2 linked regions of the Homo sapiens genome follow. The protein of the gene in region 2 purifies or fractionates together with the protein of the main gene of each other region. This does not show direct contact. Each region holds a gene or a part of one and is shown on either strand. Other genes may lie near its edges.

What was found.
Region 1: the proteins of DZANK1 (region 2) and CORO2A purify together in Homo sapiens (affinity purification with mass spectrometry; one large-scale study listed by BioGRID and IntAct). This does not show direct contact.

Annotation. Positions count from the first base shown.
Region 1 is NC_000009.12:98,126,638-98,130,454, forward strand, and holds part of CORO2A (coronin-2A), read right to left. Parts: intron 3,254-3,817; coding exon 3,157-3,253; intron 2,083-3,156; coding exon 1,970-2,082; intron 1,624-1,969; coding exon 1,533-1,623; intron 187-1,532; coding exon 1-186.
Region 2 is NC_000020.11:18,453,348-18,457,164, forward strand, and holds part of DZANK1 (double zinc ribbon and ankyrin repeat-containing protein 1), read right to left. Parts: intron 2,015-3,817; coding exon 1,900-2,014; intron 481-1,899; coding exon 384-480; intron 1-383. UniProt on the Homo sapiens protein: Involved in vesicle transport in photoreceptor cells.

The sequences.
Region 1 (3,817 bases), on a different chromosome or scaffold from region 2:
CCCACCTTGGCATCTTCTCCTCCAACAGGGAGGAAGACCTCCAGCCATCTTCTGCAGCCAGCTTTTCTGTCTGATTCAAGAGCCGGGGTGAGGCTGGGGCCATGGAATTGAAGATAGGTCTCTCTGCAGGCAGTGGGTGGGGTCTCAGCAGCTCAGAGCCAGGCCTAAGGGACACCAGGATTGGGTCTGGAAGGGAAGCAGAGCCATGTGAGGACGGGGTGCCCACGGGAAGATGGGCATATGGGGCACCAATGACACAGGCAGGCATGCAGAGACACTCAGAGCCATGCAGACCCATGCAACATGTGTGGGAAATACAGCTACCTGTGGACAGGCCCAAACCCACAGAGCAGGGCTAACAGATACAAATACCCACGTGTGCCACCCTCAGAGTGAAGCTTGGTTTGTAGGAACAGCACGGTGCGTGCACTGAAGCAGCCCCCAAACACTTCAAACTCACATGAGACCTTGCCCTTGCTTTGTAAGGACAGTCCCACCCACACTGCACCCCACCATCTACCAAGTTCATTAGTTCTCTCACCACCTCCAGAAAGCAGGGGAGGCTGGCATCATGGCTACAGATGAGGAAACTGAGGCCCAGGGAGCAAAACCTACTTAAGGTTATCCAAAACTAGGACTCGGCCCTGGTCCGCTGCCCCCCAAGGCAGAGGCTCTTCCAGTACACCAGGAGGCCCGCTCAGCCACTGGGGTGGGGGTGAAGGAAGTTTGTGGGGGTGGAAGGGAGAGGGAGCAGCTGGGGTGACTGCTTCTGCTGGGCTGGCCCCCGTGTTGGCAGGAGCGGGAGAGTGGCTCAGGACAGGCAGAGTGGGCAGAGGGACCTGGGTGGGGGTTGCTGCCTGGAGGGCTTCTTGGGTCAAGAAGAATTGCAAAAGGCCAGGCCCAGTGGCTCGCACCTGTAATCCCAGCACTTCGGGAGGCCGAGGCAGGTGGATCACTTGAGGTCAAGAGTTTGAGACCAGCCTGGCCAACATGGCAAAACCCCCATCTCTACTAAAAATACGAAAAATTAGCTGGGCATGGTGGCACGTGCCTGTAGTCCCAGCTACTCAGGAGGCTGAGGCATGAGAATCACTTGAACCTGGGGGTGGGGTGGAGGTTGCAGTGAGCTGAGATTGTACCACTGCACTCCAGCCTGGGCAACAAAGCGAGACTCTGTCTCAAAAAAAAAAAAAAAAAAAAAAAAAAAAGAATTGCAGAGGTAGGGGTGGGGAACAGGGACAGGGAGTCTGGCTGAGGTGGTCCAGGCACCCCACATAGCCCCAGAGTGTAAAGAAGCTTTCCGTGGGGCAAAGTCCCTTGAGTTGGAGTTTTCTGAGCTCTTGGGTCAAGCCCCCTGACTTTCTGGACCTGTATGTGACCATGCTACCCACTGGGGACTGAAGGTCAAGGGCATGGCTTCTGAGGTCATGAGAGAAGAAAAATCCAGGCCCAACCCCTCTCAATTGCTTGGGGCCACTGGGCACGCCATGTTCCTGTCACATTTGCCTGGGCCTCTTCTCTGCCTTCCTCACCTCGATTCATCCCGCTGAGCCACTCCTGGGCCGTCAGGGAGGGCTGGGCCCCTGCTGTTGGAGGGTATATGTCCTCTTGGTAGGATTCTGACTGCAGGAGAAATCCAGACAGTGAGGAGGGTGGTAGGGTAGGCTGCTCAGATGGGAAAGGCCCTTAGACCTGGGAGTCCAGGCTCTCACCAACCCCTGCTGAATTGAGGAAACTGAGGCCCAGAGAACAAAGGGACTTGCCCGAGGTCACGCAGCAGCTCAAGAACAGAGGTGGACCGAGACCCAGGACTCCTGACGCCCACTGATGTCACACTGGCTGTGAGAAAGGCCGCTCTGTGGCTGCCCCATGAACGTGGGCTCCAGGCTCTGGTGCCCGACAGCCCTGGGTCTGTCTTCTCCAGGACAGGTTCCCCACCTGCCTCCCATGCGGTCCCGACTGCCCTTACCCGCCGGGGCACAATCATGGAGATGGGCTCGATGAGGCTTTTGGTTGTGATCAGCTTGTAGAAGCGGAAGATCTCGCAGGAGGACACGTCGAGTCCTCTCTTTGGCATGACACCTGAAGGCAGACAGGGAGGGCCAAGAGGTTCTGGCTAGGCTGGGGCCACAGTGTTAGGGCCAAAGCCAGGCTGCACACCTGGACCTGAACAGAGACCAGTCTCCTCCCAGAAAACAGCTCAGGGACAAATACCGACACTGGGCTGGGCCCTATGTTGGGAAATGGAGTTGAATTAATCAGACTCTTCACCTTCAAAGATTTAAATTATTTTAGCTGAATTTTTTTCTTTTTGACACAAGGTCTCACTCTGTTGCCCAGGCTGGAGTGCAGTGGCACAATCATAGCTCACCGCAGTCTCACACTCCTGGGCTCAAGCGATCCTCCTGCCTTAGCGTCCCAAGTAGCTGGGACCACAGGTATGCACCTCAATTTTTTTATTTATTTGTAGAGACAGGAGTCTCACTTTGTTGCCCAGGCTAGGCTCGAATTCCTAGGCTCAAGTGATCCTCCAGCTTTGGCCTCCCAAAGTGCTGGATTAGCTGAACTTTTATAGGCAGTTTGCTCTGCTTAAGGTTCCCCATCTCCATCCCCACAGCTCCTGTGACCCAAATGCTCTTAATCAAACCGCTCCAGATTCCTTTTGAGTAGGGTTAGCAGGGTGCATCTTTCTCCAGTCCCTTACTTTTAATCTAGCCATGTCTTTATGTTTAAAGTGGGTTTCTTGTAGATTACAGAAATATAGCTGTGTTTTTAATCCTCAAGCACACTTAGAAAGGAACTGAGGACTGCTTCCTAGAGGCTCTTCTAGGTCAGCCCTTTCCATCTCTGCTCTTGTGGTAACTGCTTAACCTTGACCTAGAACACATCCCTCTCTCCCCTGCTGGGCTCTGCTTCCTCTTTCAGTTCCTCCAATGTTGCCTCCTCTGAGAAGCCTTCCCTGACTTCCTCCTTTGTGCTGTTGCACACGTCAAGTACAGCCCCCACCAAGTCAGAGTGTTGCTATGCTGTCTCTCCTCCCATCTGACTCATCCCTGTCTCCCCAGACCCCGCACTGAAGCCCTGACCCTGATTCTCCCACCTCGGCCTCCCGAAGTGCTGGGATTACAGGCATGAACTTCAGTGTCCCTCACTTACCGATCCCCTTCTGTGGGTTATAGGAGCGGTACTCAGTCAGGTAGCTCAGGTGAGGCTTGTCGGCGCTCACCTCGTAGTAGCGGATGTTGCCATCTCCCTGAGGAGGAGGAGAAGGAAGAGGAGGGTGAGATTCAGAGCTGGAGCTCATCAGCTCATCAGCAACCCAGCCATGCAGCAAAGACCTGGCTTTTTTTGATGATCGGCAAACCCATCTCACTCAAGGGAACACCAGGAAACTGGGGGCCCTGTCATCAAGGCAGGAGGGTGATGAGGGGATATTCATTTTATTTTAGATTTTATCTTATTTTTTTGAGACAGGGTCTCACTTTATTGCCCAGGCTGGAGAGCAGTAGTGCAATCACAGCTCATTGCAACCTCCTGGTCTCAAGCCATCTTCCCGCCTCAGCCTCCCGAGTAGGTGGGACCACAGGTGTGTGCCACCACGCCTGGCTAATTTTTTATTTTTTCATTTTCGTAGACATGGGGTCTCACTATGCTGCCCAGGCTGGCCTTGAACTCCTGGGCTCAAGTGATTCTCCCACCTTGGCCTCCCAAAGTGCTGGAATTATAGGCATGAGCCACTGTGCTGGGCCTGGGCCCTTATTTTAATATTCAATCCTCCCCCACCATGACCCAAAGCCCACCCTTTTTCCTCTAAGAC
Region 2 (3,817 bases):
GGTCCATACCTGATGCTGATCCCTTCACACCCAGACCAGCTTCGCTTTGAGACTATCAAAACTCTGCTTTCATTTATATTTCACCCAAACTCCACCCTTCCCCCAAACCCTACAACTCCAGCATTTCCTCTGTTTGGTTAGATGCCCCCATGGCTCCCGGCAGTGGGTCAAGAAATCTAACTTGGTTGGACTGCTTGATCCTCCTTCATGATCTTAAGCTGTAAGCAAGGACGTCATTAAAATTCAAAGTACAGCATACTTTCCTGCCCCAGTGTTTCTTATTCCAACACTTCTCCAGACAAGAAAACATGCAACGAACATGCCATGAACCTCTTCGGTGGGTTCAGAATACAAAACCTTGTCTTTGTTCTGTCACATCATACCTGGAAACTTTCTAAGGTTAACATTCCAGCTGCGTTGATTTTCAGAGTTCTTATATTTTTTCTTTAGTTTTGATCCAACAAATCCATTTTTGAATTCCTAGGAATGAAGAGATTGCATATCAATCACTTGGTTATTCCCATGTGAGAATTAAAGCTGCATGATAGAGAAAGTGTCATGGTGTGCATTTCTTATTTGAAAGAGTTTATGGTCATTTGTACAAAGTGACCCCTGTTTCACTTTATTCTGGAAACATGCAGCTTTGTATCTGGACTGGGCTGCTCAGCTGGCAGCACATCTGGATGTAGCCCTCACCAGGTGAAGTGGCCAAGGCAGGAGGCAGGGAGCAGCACATGCAGGCAGGATGTTACAACTGTGGGAGTCTGGGTAACAACAGAGGGACCACCAAGTCCAGAGGGCAAAGGCAGGGTAGAGTCAGACCAAAATCAGACTTCTGCACACCACCTGCCCACACACAGTCCTTAAACACTCTTCTCTCTGGACTTTCTCCATGGACTTGGTCCCTCACACCTGATTCAAGCCTAAGCACTTGCTGACATATGTTGGCTTAGCCCCCGAAGGCGGCCCCTGCCCAGTGTAGATCCTTGCCTTGATCACACTTGAGTCCCACCCATGCCTGCATCTACCAACCTCCTCTCTAGCATCAGGTTCATGGTCAAGCTTAAGTGAAACCCCTATAAACTTCCTCTGTCAATCCCAACAACATCCCTGTGACCAAGACCTCTGGGTTGGCCGCCTTACTGTAGGCTAGCCCATCCTCTGGCCTAACTCCTTGAATCTTTCTTATCGATGCTCACACCCAGTGCCTGAAGCGTCACACATCCTTCTCAGATGGATCTAATTGACTCTTCACAGTGGGGAGGCTTTGCAGATATTTGGGAATAAAGATTTCAACATAAAAGAATTCTATGCCCACTGAGGACTTCTACTTAATGCATCTATTCAGCAAATACACACTCACCACCCTCTCCTGCCTGCTCCTGTGCAAGGCAATGAGTATGGCAACCATGCCACCTTGGAGCTTATAATGCATAGGCAAGATAAACAAGGAACAAAGTAATCACATGCTCAAAGCAGTTTATAAAAGAAGGCCTGGGTGCCAGGATAGCAGTGATAGGGCATAGCAAACACACTCCAGTTTGGTTGGAGTATATGTAGGGGGTTGACAGACCAGGAAAAGCTGACCAAGGGCAGAAACTGATGACTTGGATGGAAGGCTAAAGGTTTCTGGTTTTTTCAGTAGGTAAGAGAGAGCCACTGAAGACACTGGAGCATGGACCCCAATGCTCAGCAGGAACTCTCATCTTCAGGGTGGATAGGAGACTGACAAAAGGCTGAGAAATCAGTAAAGATGCTTTGCAATGGTTGATAATGACTTCAGTTATAAGGACCTGACTGTGAGCAGAGGTAAGGTAATAAAAGGCAAGATCTGCTCACTGAGAAAGAAGGAACCAAAATACAGTGACAATCTGAATGGATTATAGTTTCATTACTTGCCTGCCTTGAAGAATCTTTGAGAACATTTTCAACATTGTCTTCAGGAGAGACTATATTTGGTGGTTCATAGTCTACGTGAAACACCTTTGTCACAATGCCACTCTGTCTGCAGTCTCTGAAAATTATTATTAAGAAAGGAAAAAGTCTGTGTTACACAAAGATTTTTTAAAAAGTGGCTAACAAGATGATTTTATTAAAGTGCCTTAGTCTAGCTACTAAATTTATTGTATTTCAAATTGAAGAAATCAAATGTAATTTCTATAGTCTTTCCTGACCTCCTTCCTTTTGGGCTATTTACTGCTATGTAACAAACCACCCCAAAGGTAGTGCCTTAAAACATGAATCTGTGGATTCACGGTCCCCACTGGGTAGGTCTCATTTGAGCTCTTCCATGTGGCTGCCATCAAACATCAGCAAGGGCTGGAGTCAACTGAAGGCTCAACTGGGCTGGATGTTCAAAATGACTTCTCTCAAATATGCAAAGCCTGGGCTGGGGTAACTGGAACAGCTAGGGGCTCGCCACTCATCACTCTCACTCAATCTCCATCCCTCTGTCCCTCCCTCTCTCTCTCATGTGGTTAGCTTGGGCTTCCTCACAGTATGGAAGCCTCAGGTAGTCAGACTTCCTCCATAGTACCTGACTACCCCAATCCCCTGCCAGTGTTTTTGTCCCAAGAAACCAAAGCAGAAACTACAATACTTCTTGTGATCTCAGAAGCCCTTGGCATCATTTCTGAAACATTCTATTGGTCAAAAGCAAGTCACAACACCAGCAGAAAGGTTACAAAAGGGCATAAATTCTGGGAGGCATAGTTCATTGGGGGCCATTTTTGAAGACTATCTACCACATTCATCATAAAGATATCAGACCATAAGCCTCAAACTATTCTAAAACAAAAAATGTGTTGCCTAGGTCATTCCACATGAATCAAGAGCATTTTCCCTGTCTCAGCTGTAGACAGTGTAATATATGCTGCTCTGGTAGATTCTGTAACTCAAATACTATCATGTTTTCCATTCATTCATAATATTTCACAATTCATCTTGTTCTCTGATGCAGTAAGAGCTTCATAAGAAGACAATGTAGCCGTGCCCATGACTAAAAACTAGTGGTGATGTTATTTCACTACCAGTAGCTCACCTATACTCTATTTTTTAACAGCTTTATTGAGGTATAATTTACATGACATAAAATTCATCTATTTTAAGTTTCTGGTTCAACGGAATTCAGTCAATGTAATGTACACAATTTTGTGAGTATCACCACAGTGGAAATATTTAGGACATTTCCATCACCCAAAAGAATTCCCTTGTGCCTGTGTGCAGTCACTCCTATCCAACCTCCTAGGCAACCACTGATCTGTTTCCTATCTCTATAGTTTTGTCTTTTCTAGAAATTTAACATAAATGTAATTATACATATGTGGTCATCTTACGTGTCTGGATTTTTTATTTATTTGTTTTTTTTTGGAGACTCATCTATGTTGTTGTAACTCGTTCATTGTTATTGTTGAGTAGTATTCCATTTTATGGATATACCACAATTTTTATGTCCATTCCCCAGCTGATGGTCATTTGGATTATTTCTGGGTTTGGGCTATTATGTATAATGCTGCTATGAACATTCATGTATAAGTCTTTATGTGGACACGTTTTCATTTCTCTTCAATAGATACTGAGGAGTGGAATTGTTGGGTCATATGGCAGGTATGTGTTTAATTTTCAGAAACTGCCAAACTGTGGCTGTTCCATTTTACATTCCCACCAGCAGTAGCTGAGGGGTCCAGCTTCTCCACATACTTGCTGACACTTCATATTGTCAGCCTTGTTGATGACCTGTACTCTTGATCATGTTCTCTGTAGGTATTTGCTTGATACTTGTCCCTTGTCTATCAAGATATAGGCTTGGTCGTTGTAA